2 separate regions of the Homo sapiens genome follow, and region 2 is linked to region 1. The links come from fine-mapping of genetic effects on gene expression. Tissue or cell type: tibial nerve. Region 1 holds a variant in brackets; the other region holds the start of a gene. All regions are shown on one strand. Distances are between the middles of the regions.

Region 1 (8,105 bases):
AGATCTCAACTTTGGCATGACCTGGAAAAATGCTGCATGTGATGTGCCAGCCTCTCTGCAGGGCTGCTCGGTAGGGGCAACAGCTTGCCCTTTGGCTGGCAGCAGACTCCTTCCAATGCTCTGGGTCCAGACCACACTTGTTCTAACTGTCCTGGAGGAGAGGTGTTAGGTAGAAAGCTTTCTTTCCCTACTGTCAGGGACCCGGCGTGCTCCAGGAGGCTGCCGCCCACCATTTTTGCTTATTGCCAGAGCTGCCTCACTGTTGCTGTGGGGGTGCTGAGCATCTGATTCTCATCTGCCAGGGCGCCAGGGCTGATTTGGGGAGGAAAGGACCAAGAGGCACAGGTCGCTGTGCGCTGGCCCTGGGGATCTCCGCGGTAATGGCGCTGGCTACTTCTGTTTGTTCTTACCTGAAACTATCAACACAAATAGAACTTATGCCACAAAATATTTAACAACATGCCAGGCACATGCACAGAAGGACTGGACTGGCCATTTGCTGAGATGCTGGGGCAGGTACCCAAGCTCTCTGCTGTGACAAGGTCACCCTTTAAATGTGGGCTCATGGAGAGATCTAGGGGGCTGGGGAGAGGCCGGGTGGCCAGGGTACAGTACCAACCCGCGTGAACGCACCCCAATGTTTTCACTGTCTCCATGGCCTTACTGGGTGGGACATGGGAAATTTCAGCCCTGACTCTTACCAGGGCTGAAAAAAGAGGTTTGCTGAGCAACTGGAATGATCCAGGAGCTTGACAAAGAGAAGATGTAAAGTAAATTGAGCATGCTCTTACCTATGTACACAAGTAGGGTGGAGGGATACCCATGCCTTCCCTCCCTGACATGGCAGGGCTGGTGCTGAGTGCGGACCATATGCCCAGGGCCTCAGGTCAGGGACAGCACACAGCCCAGTTGCACTCAGCTGAAGTCAGAGGGAGGGTGAGCCAACCGGGAGAGGTTTCCTGGGGTACACCATTGGAAGGGGCCTTGAGTATCGGTAGGGCCAGCAGCGAGAAAAGCAAGGAAGAACATCTCAGAGGGGCGGATCTCATGGAGTGGAGATAGAACAGAGGGTACTGACCCGATGGCGTGTAGACTTGTCTACTCGGAGTGTGAGGTGCCTGAGGTCAGGTGCACCAGAAGTAGACCCTGAGACATATATTCACATGCAAGAGCTTTATCAAGGAATTAATCCTGGGGAGACCTACCTGTGAGAGAGTGGGGAGCAGGCCGGGGAAGGAGGAAGCCTCTCAAGGCTGCAGCCTTGGGTGGAAGTCCTGTGAAGGTGACATCAGCCCCACCCTGCAGGAGTCGTGGACCACAAAGTGTGCAGAGTCCCAGTTTCTTATACCAGCACTGGACTGGCAGTCAGTGTTAAAAGCCTCTGGGTGGGGAGTCTAAAAGAGGCAGGTGGGAGGAAGCAGAACCCCTGGCAACCCAGTGACCTGCTGATGAGAAAAGCAAGGGAGAGAGAAAGGGAGAGTGAGTAGAAGCAACCTGTATGCAGCTTTCCTGCCAGGGTGGTGGGAAGCCAGGGGCGCCATTCTCTGACAGAGACCACAGGAATGAGCAGAGACTGGGGAGAAAAAATGATGATGCCGGTGTGGCATATGGGGATGTTGAAGTCTCTGGGGACACTGGGGTGAAGGCCGACACAGTTTGCTGGATGCAGGTCTGTGACTTAGGAGAGGCCTCAGGCCCCAAGGCAGCACAATCGAGCCACAGCAATGAAGAGGCCCCTTGGATAGGATTTCTGTGGATTCTCCAACCTCCCGGACACGCAGGGGCTCAGTGATTGGAGACAGACAGCATCTCCAGGGAAGGGATGAAGCAGGTGTCACTCTCACACATTTGGAGGGACCGATCATGAGGAAGTCATTAAATGATACACTATTAACAGCTGGTATTTACCAAGCCCTTCCAATGTGCCCTGTGCCCTGCACCGGTGCCAAGAAAGTCCTGTGTGCATGATCCAATTGTACCCCTCAGGGGTGGGCATACTACTATTACTCAAACTCTACAGGTGAAGGAAAGTGAGGTATTGTCATCAAGGCCATATAGCAAATAAATGGATGAAACTTACTCTTTAATTTCCCAGTTTTATCAATGATCCCAGATATCATTCCTTTAGGGAAGCATCCCCACAGTGGCAATACCACACAAGTGTTTCTCTAGCTGTTTAGCTGCACCTCCTGCTCTTTAAACCTAGTAAACATTTGCCTGCCTGCAAATGGTTCCTATCTCCAGTTTGTCCCAAGAGCTGGGCTATTCAGTCTCCCTACAGCAAATCTCCCTACACAATTATTTAAAAACCGTTCATTTGGGGACATTTACTCCTCCCTTTTCACCACATGAGGCAATCTGGTTCATGGTATCTTGGAAACACTAGAAACGAGCATTTTTACCCATCGAAATGGCTCCCAAGGGCAGCTTGCGTCAGCACAAATGTATACTGAGAGGCCTCCAACGTGGGTCTTTGCCGTAAATCATTTTCTGAGCTGTGTGTGAGAAGAGCTTCCTCATCCCTCCAAAGGACAGTGGCCTGACACTACCATTAGCTTTTTATAGACAAAACTATATAGAAGGAAGATGTAGAAGAAAAATGGAGTAATTTCTGTATAGCACAACGGATGTGATCAAATAAGGCTGCGGTGGCCTGTTAGAGAAATGTACGTGCTGTGAAGGTTGCATGGATGCTGAATGCACTTCGTCCCGACCAAACAAGGCACAACGAATCTCAACATTCTACCAAAGGACATGGCGACGTGGCGTGATGGTAGGGTGTGGTAGAGTGACCACATGTCTGGTTTGCCCAGAGCTGCCCAGGGTATGCCTGCCAGCCCTCCCTGGACAATACAATGTAGGATCGCCTCTCTTTTTGTTCTGATGCGGTTTCCCATGCCAAACAATTTCAGAGGACGGACACTAACTTCCTGTCCAAAGTCTCCAAGTCACTCTCTTCCCCAGACTTGGGGAATAATAAGCCAGATAAGTCTCCCAAGGTATGAACGTCTGAGCCCTCGCTTTGGGCTGATTATGATGCTGTGGCCAGACGTTTTAAATATTCACACTGTGAATATTTAACCCCAAAATCTGCACCCAAAAATCTGTGAAAGAACAAAGCTGACTCCCCAAAATAAACACAAGTCGAATCTGTGGATGGGACCTGATGGTTAAGCGAGCTTAGTTAGAGGCTTAGTCATCTGATTTCAGGGCCCACAGGTGTGTCTGGGCCGACGAAGACCTGAGAGGTCAGACCGTCTGCCAGTGTGGAAGGAGCTGGGGCAACGAAGGGGGCTGCTGTGATCGCAAGGC[G/A]AATGGGGGGACCATGCGTTTCCTTTGCACCCTTGCACAGTAGTTTTTCGGGAGGGGGCTGCAGATTTTGGGTTGGAGAGAAGGAGCAGGGATTCCTGATTCCAACCTCTCTAGGCTGCCCAGGAGTTCACCCTCAGGCTTCCTGGGAGCAGGTTTGCACACCACTACCAAGGTGTGTTGCCGTCCTCAGTTCACGGTGCCACAGCCAGAGTCTGCACAAGTGGCATCCTGTTTCCTAATGCATCTTTAGCTCTCACGGATGCCTCGCCTTTGGTGGTCCCCCAAACAGATCCACGGCAGCATGTGCTGTGATGACTGCCCACCCCCACCCTCCTCCCAGGAAATTTCTAAAGAACTCCATCTGGCGTCCAGCAGCTTCGTGTTTGTTCTTTTTATAAATATGTTCTGTGATGAAATTCAGGGTTAAGCTTTCTGATCACATGATCTGTCCTGACTTCACAGTCATCCATTCTATCTGGATCAATGACATCTAAGTATTTCCATGGTCTCCAGGAGCTAAATCACAGCACCTGGCTTCTTGCTCTGCACGTGGCTGGGCCTGGCTCCCAGGACTCTCTGTCCTCCATGGACTGGTTGTGAAAGCCACACAAGAACCGGCTCAGGAGACCACGAGTGGGCAGGGGGCCCCTCCCTGGGGCTGGGTGCAGGCCAGCACCCTGGCAAGGTAGAAACAAATGGGCATCTCGACAGCCAAGCCAGGGCTGCTGAGTGTTTTATCCATCTTTCTGAGAGGCAGTGTTTTCATCATTGAGTCACCACTGGGTATGTTCAGGTGACCATCTCTATTTAGTCTCACTTCTGACCACATATGACAATCCTGGAAGCTTTCCAGAATCCCCGTGCCTGGACTCTACCCAGTACCAAATCAGAATCTCAGGGCATCAGTATGTTTTTAAACCTCCCCAGGAGATACCAAGGAGCGGCTGGGCTTGAGCATCTGCTCTCCGCCGGGACTTCTCACACTGTAATGTGCACACCAATCACCAGGGATCTTCTTCAAACGCACATCTTGACTCAGTAGGTCTGGGGAGGGGCGTGATTTCCGCGTTTCTGACTCGCTCTCAGGAGAGGCTGGTGCTGCTGATCCAGGTGCCACCCTTGGAGGGCAAGGGCACAAGTGTATCACAGTGTGGCAAACCATGGAAGGTTGGCCAGTTTTTAAAATTTCAATAGCCTTTGGGGTGCAACTGGTTTTCGGTTAGGTGGATGAATTGTCGGGCCAGTCTTTGTAAAAAGAGTTTTTGTTTTTGTTTGTTTTGTTTTTTTGTTTTGAACCTCCCGGGTTCAAGCGATTCTCCTGCCTCAGCCTCCGGAATAGCTGGGATTACAGGCATGTGCCACCATGCCTGGATAATTTTAAAGATATTTTTAGTAGAGATGGGGTTTCACCATGTTGGTCAGGCTGGTCTCGAACTCCTGACCTCAGGTGATCCGCCTGCCTCTGCCTCACAAAGTGCTGGGATTACAGGCATAAGCCACTGTGCCCGGCTGTAAAAAGAGTTTATTGGCTGGACACAGTGGCTCATGCCTGTAATCCCAGCACTTTGGGAGGCCAAGGCAGGCAGATCACAAGGTTCAGGAGATCAAGGCCATCCTGGCAAACACGGTGAAACTCCATTTCTACTAAAAATACAAAAATTTGGCCGGGCATGGTGGCACATGCCTGTAATCCCAGCTACTCGGGGGTCTGAGGCAGGAGAATTGCTTGAACCTGGAAGGCGGAGGTTGTAGTGAGCCGAGATCACACCACTGCACTCCAGCCTGGGTGACAGAGCAAGACTCTGCCTCAAAAAAAAAAAAAAAAAAAAGAGAGTTTTATTGAGACACAGCCATACCACACTCACACTATGAGGCAGGGATGCAACAGAGACTGTATGGCCTGAAAGCCTAAAATATTCACTCTCTGGCACTTTACAGAAAAAGTTTGCTGATTTAGAACTTGTTAGTATAGGTGCATCTGTCACAAGCTCAGCGGCCGGCATGGGCAGCCCAGGTAGGTAGGCCTCCCTATCACAGGTGGATGTGAGTCAGAGGGTCACGTTCCGTCATACAGAGCGGTGCCCAGTGTTTTCCCGTGACAGTGGCACTGTTCGTTCACCACAGTCACCCTGTAACCGGCAGCGGTGCTGTTGACTTCGTCATGCCAAGGGATATCCAGTTCCGAGCACCTTCTGTTGCGTGTCTAAGACACTGTGGGAGCCTTTGGGAGGCAGGATGGTTTAAAATGGGGCACAGTTCCATATCACTTAGACAGAAGGATCAGGGTGGATTGTGACCTCCCAGTGATTGTCAGCCCTTCTGTCCTCCTTTCAAAGCTTTCAGACTTGGGGATACAGTTTGGCTCTGTGTCCTCACCCAAATCTCACCTCAAATTATAATCCCCATAATCCTCAAGGGTCAAGGGCGGGGCCAGGTGGAGGTGATTGAATCATGGGGGCGGTTTCCCCCATGTTGTTCTCGTGATGGTGAGTGAGCTCTCACGAGATCTGACGGGCTCGGAAGCGTCTGGCCTTTCCCCGCTTGCACTCACTCTGTCCTGCCGCCCGGTGAAGAAGGTACGTGCTTCTCCTTTGCCTTCTGCCATGACTGTCGGTTTCCTGAGGTCTCTCCAGCAATGCAGAACTGTGAGTCAACTAAACCTCTTTTCTTTATAAATTATCTGGTCTCGGTATTTCGTCACGGCAGTGTGAGAATGGACTAATACACTTGGGTTACAATTTTGGCAGACAAAATTGTGTTTTCTGTGTTTAGAATTACCAAAAAAAAGTAGGGAGATGGGGATGGTTTACATATAATCTACTCCTCTTAAAAGTTATTGGAGTGCAGTGGTGCAACCTCGGCTCACTGCAACATTCGTCTCCTGGGTTCAAGCAATCCTCCTGCTTCAGCCTCCCAAGTTGCTGGGATTACAGGCGCTCGCCACCACGCCCTACTAATTTTTGCATTTTTAGTAGAGAGAGGGTTTCATCGTGTTGGCCAGACTGGTCTGGAACTCATGACCTCAGGTGATCCACCCGCCTCGGCCTCCCAAAGTGCTGAGATTACAGGCGTGAGCCACTGTGCCCGGCCCTGGCCGACTGTCTTAAATTGTGCAATCTAGTGTCCATAAAACTCTAATTATTTTGCTGTCATTTAAATTTTTTTACTATTTAAAAATTTCACGTGTAATTACAGATGGTACGTTTGTTGAGAAAACATATGTACCACAGTATTTGTAGTCAGAATTCAGAAATAAGCACTGTAATGTTTTAGTGTGTATCACATTTCACGTCATTTCTATGCAGAAATAGACCACATGCCACAGAGTGAACTTTGTCTCTAGCCTCAGCTTTCTCATCTCTAAAGTGGGGAGATCCTCTCCTGCTTCACGGAGTTGTTGTTAGGATGGAATGAGCTCGTATCAGTAAAGTGCTGACAGCACTGTATACTAAGTTTTGGAAATGGAATTTAACTGTTTTATAACCTGCTTACCAGGGTTTGGGGCCAGACATAAAATTCATGCACCCCACTTTTGTCACATTCCACTGGAGAGAGCTGAACCTCAAACTCACACCAGACTCCAAGAGACACAGAAAACATAGTGTCCTGAGCAGGCTGACCCAGCGTAAGGCCAGGACTGCAGAGAAAGGGAAGCAGGTTTTGGTGGAGAGCTGATCTCTGCCCCAGGGTATTTTACCATTTTTCTATGTAAGTGTTAATATTTTGCTTTTCGATATATGTGTGTTCTTTATAAATGAGGGACAGCAACCTTATGACTCATGTATATTGCAAAATTTTTCTTTGGTGTCACTTTTCACTTGCAAAAATTTTCTTTGGTGTCATTTTTCACTTTTAATTTTGTTCATGGAATTTCCTATTTTTATTTGTTGTTGTTGTTTTAGACAGAGTCTCTCTCTGTCACTCAGGCTGGAGTGCAGTGGTGTGATCTCGGCTCACTGCAACCTCGCCTCCCAGGTTCAAGTGATTCTCCTGCCTCAGCCTTCTCAGTAGTTGGGATGAGAGGCGTATGCCACCACACCCAGCTAATTTTTGTATTTTTAGTAGAGATGGGGTTTTACCATGTTGGCCAGGCTGGTCTTGAACTCCTGATCTCAAGTGATCCACCTGCCTTAGCCTCCCAAAGTGCTGAGATTACAGGCGTGAGCCACCGTACCCAACTGGAATTTCCTATTTTTTGAAAAAACTTTTTGTAATATATTCACACATGTGACAAAAATGCATTAGAAAATAAAATTGCTCAGAATTCCACAACTACAAATGGCAATTCTGTTGCCTTGACGTAGTTGTGTGTGTTCCTTACACACTTGGGTTTATACTGTATATTCTGTAGATAATTTTATATCCTGCTTTTTAATTTAATATTATATTGTGAGAATTTTCCCATGAAGCTGGAATTTATTTAAAAACATACTTTTATGACTGCTTGTCAAAGCAGATGTCGTCACTCCTGTCATCCTGGGCTTAAAGGTGGACTCTGCTTGGTTTCCTTAGGTTGAATTTCTAAAAGAGAAATTACTTGTATCAAGGACACACAGAGAATGAGAAACGTTTGAAGCGGTGGTTATCCTAAATACTCTAATTTGATTATTAAGCATCGTATGCACAAATCAAAATATCACATGTACCTCATCAATATGTACAACTATTATGTATCAGTTAAAAAATGAATACACCGAGTTCTACTCGTCATGGACATTCAGCAAGGTTAGTGAGTCAAGCCGTTGAGGAAGCCGCTTTAAGACTGTGTCTGTAGAGTAATGAGCCACCTTAAA
Region 2 (8,105 bases), 660 kb before region 1:
GTACTGTGAAAGTATTTTCATATTTTTTCTGTGTGCCAGAGTGAAAAAGGACAGCTTCTGAGTGTGGTAATTGTGCCTCTAGCACCCAGCCTTTCAAAGCCCACCTGAAACCTGGGGGTGGATGAAAGAACTAGAATAGAAGACTGAAGCTGGGTAGGCCGCTCAGTGTCCACTGGCATTTTGCTAAACCGACAAGGAAGGCTGTGTGCTTAGCTCTCCCCAGAGGGAGGGCGAGAAGGGTGTGGTGATGGTCAATCTGGCTGTCGGAACAGATTCTGGTGTCTTGGGCTGATAACAGTGTTGTTGATTCTGATTGTGAATCCCCTCAACTCTAGCAGACACATACACACCCCTGAAATGGGGCTGCAGAGCAGGCTGTCTCAGCCTTGCCACTGTCGGCATCTCGGCCTGGGTAATTCTGTTGTGGGGACTGTCCTGTTCCTTGTAGGATGTTTAGTAGCATCCCTGCCCCCACCTACTAGATGCCAGGGGCACTGTTCTCCCCAGCCCCCCGCCCCAGTTGTGACAATAGTCTCTAAACATTGTCAAATGGTCCAAGGAAAGGGGAAAATTGCCCCGGTTGAGAAGAGCACTGCTGTAAAGTAATGAGCCTCGGCTCTCCTGTCTGCACCTGTCCGGTTACTACTTGGCCACCACGCAGCCTTGGCTCCTACAGCCCAAAAGGGAGAATGGAGGGAGGCTCCAGGCTTTGCTGGAGGGGCCTGGGTGAGTTCTGTTTGCTCCTTGTACCACCATCCAAATGGTGTTATCAAATCTCTTAGATTCCAAAGAGGTTGAATAATTAATGTTCAAAGGCAAGAGGGCAAGGCATTTTTTAACACTTTTTAAAATAAAAATTTATACCACAACTTTAGGCTATTGATGTGATGTGTCACTGGGACAGATGCGGATTCTCCATGGTGCCTCTGCCACTGAGGCCGCATTTCCTGAGCATAATCCCCTTTTACCCTCCCGCTGCCAAGCAGGAGACGGGATGCTGATGGTAAGAACACCTCCCTGCCAGTGCATTTTGGCGCTCAGGATGAGAGGCCTGCAGCACTGCTGTCCCCGCGCCTGGCTCTGGGGCCTTCCCTTCACCCCCACTCTCTCAGCACCATGGTGAGAAGAACCAAGTTTGCCTGTGAGGAGTTAGGTACAAGGCCCAAGCTCCACAAGAACACTGCTGTTAATGGGCAGAGCCAATGACGACACAGACCAGCAAAGCAGAACCGAGACTGTCCGCACTTGGTTCGGAAACAAATACTCACACCCTAGGTTATTGCTGGTAACGGAGACCTCCTTCCAGCTCCCACAGTCCTGCTTGGTAGATTTTCTACTTGTTGCTACAATCATCATCTTTGCTTTGGGTCTGTCACGTGAGGTTAGGGTTTCAGGAATAAAATGTTTAATAAATCACAAAATATTTTAGGCAGTATTTTGATGTACATTTTAATGTGTGGTATTTATGAAAGGGAAAGGGTTTTCTAATTATAATAAAGGCATAAATAGTGTAAATATTCAAGATTTTAGAAGCAGCTGATTTCAGAGAAATCACTGAAAGGTTAATGCTACTACAGTGATTTTTACAATATGCAATAATCCAAGTATACGACCAGGTATAGTGGCTCATGCCTGTAATCCCAGCACTTTGGGAGGCCAAGCTGGGAGGATCGCTTGAGGCCATGAGTTCGAGACCAGTGTGGACAACACAGCAAGACCCTATCTCCACAAAAACATTAAAAAATATTAGCCAGGTGTGGTGGTGTATGCCTGTAGTCCTAGCTTCTTGGCAGGCTAAGGTGGGAGGATCACTTGAGCCCAGGAGTTTGAGGCTGTGGGGAGCTGTGATCACACCGTGCCTCAATAATAATAGCAATCATCATCATCATCATCAAGTATAGAGTCCTGAAATTGAGAGCTCAAAACTCCCCCCTGCCCCTTCTCAGCTGTGTTACCCAGGCCTTGCTTCCTAACCTTTCGCCGTCATTATGCAAGTATAGAGTCCTGAAATTGAGCAGCTCAAAATTACTTTTCAGCTGTGTTACCTAGGGCTTGCTTCCTAACCTTTCTTAGCCTCAGTTGCCTCATCTATAAATGGAGAGTGCAATAGCACAGAAGGCTAATGTGAAGATTAAAGAAATATGATATATCATAAGGTGCCTGGCACAAAAATGGCAGTTTTTTTAAACTGTACGATCTTGCTATATATAAAGAACTGGTTGTCAGGTATGTTACTTAAAAATAGTGACACCACGCTGGACGCGGTGGCACACACCTGTAATCCTAGCACTTTAGGAGGCTGAGGCGGGTGGATCACCTGAGGTCAGGAGTTTGAGACCAGCCTGGCCAACATGGCAAAACCTCGTCTCTACTAAAATTACAAAAATTAGCCGGGCATGGTGGCGGGTGCTTGTAATCTCAGCTACTCAGGAGGCTGAGGCAGGAGAATTGCTTGAACCTGCGAGGCAGAGGTTACAGTGAGCTGAGATTGCGCCATTGCACTCCAGCCTGGGCAACAAGACCAAAACTCCGTCTCAAAAAAAAAAAATTGTGACACCAATAACCTAAAACTCAGTGCTACCGTTTTTTATTAGCACAAGGGTAACTGGTGTTGAAACTGTACAGACAGCTATTTTTATCATTTCTGAGATGAAACCCCAATCAACATATCAGGAAAAAAGGAAATACTGACCTCACCAAAGATTTCTGAAAGTCAAACGATATTAAACTCAAACATTATATATGTCTCTTTCCTTTTATGCAGGAATTAATGTGATAGATTTATGTTGAGAGTAGAATATGAAAACTTTTGCATAGTCTGTATTTAGGCCAAAACTGCCTTTACTACTCAAGAAAGTCCAATGGGCCAGTGAGGACACTGCAGGTGACAGAAATTTCTATGAGTGTAACACCTACAAGCACTGTGCTCACAGGACTGACTGTTACACCAAAAAGGTCTCTTGGAGGAGAAGAAATGCAATATGCAAAGAAGCTGTTGTCTCCAATTATTCAAGCCAAGGCTACAACAGTAGCCACAAATCTGCCAGTTATTTCCAATTAAGGCAGAACGATTGACTTAAAAAGCAATAGTTGTTTTTTTTCTCCACTGAGCTTTCAATTAGATAATGTCTATAACCTTTATAAAGCTGCAATTATACAGCCAAAAGAAAAAAAATTAATTGTGGTAAAACATACATAAAACTTACCACTTAAACCACTTTTAGGTGTGTAGTTCAGTGGCAGTAAGTACACTCACAATGTAATGCAGGCATCACCAAAATCCATCCCCAGGACTTTTTCATCTCTCCAAACTGAAACTCTGTCCCCATGAAACACCAACTTTCCATTCCCCCTTCCACCAGCCCTCAACAACCCCCATTCTATTTTCTGTCCCTATAAGTTTGACTCCTCTAGGTACCTTATTATATAAGTGGAATCACACAGTATTTGTCTTTTTTTGACTGGCTTACCTCCCTCAGCATAGTGTCCTCCAGGTTCATCCATGTAGTAGCAAGTGTCAGAATTTCGTTCTTTGTTCAGGCTAAAAAATGTTCCCTTGCATGCACAGACAACATTTTGCTTATCCATGTATCTGTTTTTGGACACTTAAATTGCCTCCACCCTTTTGGCTATTGTGAATAGTGCCGCTGTCAACGTGAGTGTAAAAACATTTCTTCTTGTACACCCTGTTTTAAATTCTTTTGGGTTATATACCCAGAAAAGAAAATGCTGGATCATATAACTGATTTGTTGAGGAACCGCAGTATTGTTCATCACATGGCTGCACCATTTTACATTCCCAACAGCAATATACAAGGGCTTCAATTTCTCTACATCTTCACCAACACTAATTTCTGGGGGTTTTGCTAGTAGCCATCCTAATGGGCGTGAAGTGGTATAAACAAAATTTAGATCCCATCATCTCCGAAAAGCAAATACACTTCCTAGTACTAGTCAGTACTAAATAGGTGCACAGCGTTTAGAACTTTACTTGATCCAACATAGCAGCCTGCCTAGAGCCGGAGCCCCGCCCACTCCGGAGTCCCGCCTGGACGCCGACGCAGCGAGGGCGCTATGGCTGGCGGCCTCGCCTCCTGGAAAGGCCATGGTCGCTGAGGCGACGAGCGAGGGCGGGGCAGCGCCGACGGGGACACTCATCCCGGGAGCCAGAGCCAGCACCGAGAGGGGACGGTCTACGCGGGTGCCGGCGGTTCCAGGACTGCGAAACCACGAGCCGAGTTTCGGTCGCCCATGGGAAAGCACCCGGCAGGGCGTGGCTTCGGGGCGGGGCGGGCAGAGGGCGGAGCAGGATGGAGAGGCGAGGTGGGCGGAGCAGAGGGCGTGGCTTCGGGGCAGAGTGGGCCGGGTACCGCGCTTGGTCTTAGCGCATGCGCACTCCCGGCAGCTACGCGACCTGTGACCATGGTGGCTGTGCTGGGCGGCCGGGGCGTGTTGCGCCTGCGGCTGCTTCTCTCAGCGCTGAAGCCCGGGATCCACGTCCCACGGGCCGGACCCGCGGCCGCGTTCGGGTAATGGCGGCCACCTCGCCCCGGGGATCCCCAGCATCGGCGCGCTCGAGGGGCGGCGGGAGGGGCGCGTGCCGACAGCAGGAGTTCCCGGCGCGCGGGCACGGGGCGTGGGCGCGGCCTGGCTGCCCTGTCGCCCTTTGTGCCGCGAGACCCCGATCCTGGGGGCCAGCCGCGCTTGGTGCTCGAGCCCCTCGATCGTGCATGCGCCTCGGTCAGCCTCAGTTCAAGGAGTCTGGAGCCGTGGAGGCTTGGGCTATAGAGTGCAGCCCCTTCAGTGTGCAGACCAGAGAGACCCAGGGAGATACATTTGCCTGTAGTATGGACTCACCCGTGACGGAGCACGGACTAGAATCCCAACGCCCTCATTAGTCCATTGCTCTGTCCAGAGTCCACACTAAGGGCATAAGGACAATAATCTCTTCTTTCTCTTATGTCAGAAATCAGCCTGAGCCTGAGTACCGCTAAGGCTTTAATCACGGGTCCCGAGAGCCCTAAGTCTTCTCTTTGCTTGCTGATCTCGTACCTTAATGTGCAAAAGAATCACGTTGGGAACTGAAAATTCAGAATCCTGGGCCTCACTCCCAGAGGATCTGATCTACATGTGTGGAGATGCCCAGGAATCTGCTTTATTCTCTTTTGTCCTCCCACCTGTCCCCCCATTTCAGGTAAAACAATAACAAAAAAACTGGATTAATTTCTGACCTTCTGTCTTGAAAATGGATACTCTTGGTCCCAAGAGATACTGGGCAGAAATGTGGATAGAGCGGCATGAAGCTTGTTTTACTTTATTCTCTACATACATCCCTACACACATGCAAACACACGTATACAACGAACGTACACAGTGCATGTGCGCAGTTGACTGTTGATGGGCTACTTTCATAAAGTCAGTACTAGATAGGTACACAGCGTTTAGAACTGTACTTGATCCAACATAGAAACTTTTAGTTTGAAAACTTGATTTAGAAGGAGAAAAGAGGGCAAATCTGACCAGCTTTTAAAATTTCATATTGCAATTGACTAGCTCCTTTAATTTTAGAATTATTATAAGATGGTCAGGGCTATTTTGATAGATGGAAAAACATGTTAATGGCTACAGCTGTATAAATTAACAGTGAAAATGATTATTTTTTCCAGTTTCCTGTCTGCAGAAAGGCATCGAAATAAGTTACTGTGATTGTACCAATATAGTTCTTTTTTTTTTTGAGACTGACTCTCGCTCTTTTGCCCATGCTGGAGTGCAGTGTTGTGATCTCGCTCACTGCAACCTCTGCCTCCCAGGTTTAAGCGATTCTCGTGGCCTCAGCCTCCCGAGTAGCTGGGATTACAGGTACCTGCCACCATGCCCGGCTAATTTTTGTGTTTTTAGTAGAGATGGGGTTTCACCATGTTGGCCAAGCTGATCTCGAACTCTTGACCTCAAATGATCCACCTGCCTCAGCCTCCCAAAGTGCTGGGATTACAGGCGTGAGCCACCGCTCTCGGCCTACCAGTATAGTTCTGATAGGTTATTTAATGGTTGAGGAAGGCCCCATCCATCTAGTTGCATTGCAGATCATTCTTCCTAAAATATCTCTGAAGAAACAGGTTTTTCTGGATTTTGTACGGCCGTTTTATAAATGCAGCTGCAAGTTGATATGACATATAATCTGGGAAAACAAGCAGTGGTATTAGTTAATCCTGAAATGCAGCTGTAGCTCAGTGTCAGTAGGTAAAAGGATTCGTGTAAAAACTTTGCTTCAGAATAGCCAGTGCCCAACCTACAACTGACTTTTGTTCCAAAAACTTGTTTGTAAGTCTGCTGTTTGGAACTTTGACCCTTATTTCAAAATCCGTAAGGTGATTTATTCCTGGGTCAGGTCAAGAAAAGCCTTTTCTACCTGAAATTGGATATTATGTGCAGTTATAAATATTAATAATTCACATAACCTAACAATCTTCCTAAAAAATATTTTCCAAGTTCAACCTTGGGATGCCCTGCCAGAGAATCAGAGACTGTCCTTCTGCTGACGCTTGCCACCACGCTGTATCTGGCAGTCAGAGTGTGGCCCCGGTGCCTGAGCCCTCTTAGGACTCTGTTCAGCCATGAGGTTAGAGAGGAATCATGGCCTCTGGAGTTCTAATGGCCCCGTGGCCACTTCCTAGCTCTGTGAGTGTGGGCAGATTGTTCAACCTCTCTGAGCCTCCTGCCTTGCAGCGTTTTTGTGAGGATTTGAAACAATAAATGTAAAAGCCTGGGGATATAATAAACATGAAGTAATTAGTAGGCACAATGGGAATATTTATATAATAGTACAATATATAAGAGATGTAAAAATAATTCATCAAGATTCATGCAAATTTCAAGCCCTGAAGGTAGCAAATACTTTATTGTAGATAATGGCTACTTCACAAAACATACACAAAAGAAATAGCTGAACATACAATATGATAATAGCAGTTTCTTTTTTTTTTTTTTTTTTTTTTTTTTTGAGACGGAGTCTCTCTCTGTCACCAGGCTGGAGTGCAGTGGCACGATCTCGGCTCACTGTAATCTTCACCTCCCAGGTTCCAGCGATTCCCCTGCCTCAGCCTTCTGAGTAGCTGGGATTACAGGTGTGCACCACCATGCCGGGCTAATTTTTTTGTGTGTATTTTAGTAGAGATGGCGTTCCACCATGTTGGGCAGGATGGTCTTGATCTCCTGACCTCGTGATCCTGACCTCGTGATCCACCCACCTGGGCCGCCCAAAGTATCGGGATTACAGGTGTGAGCCACCACACCTGGCCGATCCTAAGCTATCTTAACTGTAGAAATGAATTTCTCAGAGGAATAGGGCAGTAATCATAATAAGTAAATGGCAGAGTCAGTATTGCCATTGCTTGGTGGCTTCATTGATGCCCCTTTAATAATATTTCTGTAGATAAGGAGCTTATAGTTTAGTCAGACCTTATTACTACCCAATTCTGTCTTTTATTTTTCCAGAAATGGTATGTTAAGAGTAGATGTACCTGTATTCAACACATCTGTTTCCACGTTTGTTTCTTTTTTACTTGAGACTGGCAAATAAGATTAAACCAAAAGATAAAACAGGACCTCATTTTTTCAAAAGGGCTGTGTTTCAGTTATCCTTTGACTAAGGGCAGAGGTAGGAGTAGAGAGTATGTAGAAGAAAAAGGAGATGGGCCGGGCCTGTAATCCCAGCGCTTAGGGAGGCTGAGGCAGGCAGATCACGAGGTCAGGAGATTGAGACCATCCTGGCTAACAGGGTGAAACCCCGTCTCTACTAAAAATACAAAAAAATTAGCCGGGCGTGGTGGCGGGTGCCTGTAGTCCCAGCTACTTGGGAGGCTGAGGCAGGAGAATGGTGTGAACCCGGGAGGTGGAACTTGCAGTGAGCCGAGATGGCGCCACTGCACTCCAGCCTGGGCGACAGAGTGAGACTCCATCTCAAAAAATAAATAAATAAAAATAAAAATAAAAGGAGATGGTGGTTGATTTCATTGTATTGGCACTCCACCAGGAGAAGAGAGCGCCTCCTTCTGGCATCTGTCCTGGCTTGCCATCATGTCCCTCCTGTGCTTCACTCAGTCATC

Evidence for each region. PIP is the estimated chance that this variant, and not a neighbour inherited with it, causes the effect.
Region 2: it holds the start of BPHL, and the variant in region 1 is fine-mapped to the expression of BPHL in tibial nerve (GTEx, PIP 0.98).

Annotation. Positions count from the first base shown.
Region 1 is chr6:3,779,251-3,787,355 of GRCh38, forward strand. It overlaps LOC124901244 (a long non-coding RNA gene), which reads right to left. Exons shown (of 2, transcript XR_007059412.1): 2 at 7,709-8,105. Among named protein-coding and RNA genes, the nearest start is that of PXDC1, 32 kb to the left of the region's middle. The variant G/A (reference allele first, on the strand shown) is at 3,313.
Region 2 is chr6:3,114,319-3,122,423 of GRCh38, forward strand. BPHL (biphenyl hydrolase like) reads left to right here and starts at 4,393. Exons shown (of 7, transcript NM_004332.4): 1 at 4,393-4,529. The coding sequence starts at 4,423. It overlaps RIPK1 (receptor interacting serine/threonine kinase 1), which reads left to right. Exons shown (of 11, transcript NM_001354930.2): 11 at 1-869. It overlaps LOC107986556 (a long non-coding RNA gene), which reads right to left and starts at 4,329. Exons shown (of 4, transcript XR_001743928.3): 1 at 3,471-4,329. RefSeq lists an enhancer at 3,627-4,262 and a silencer at 4,301-4,690.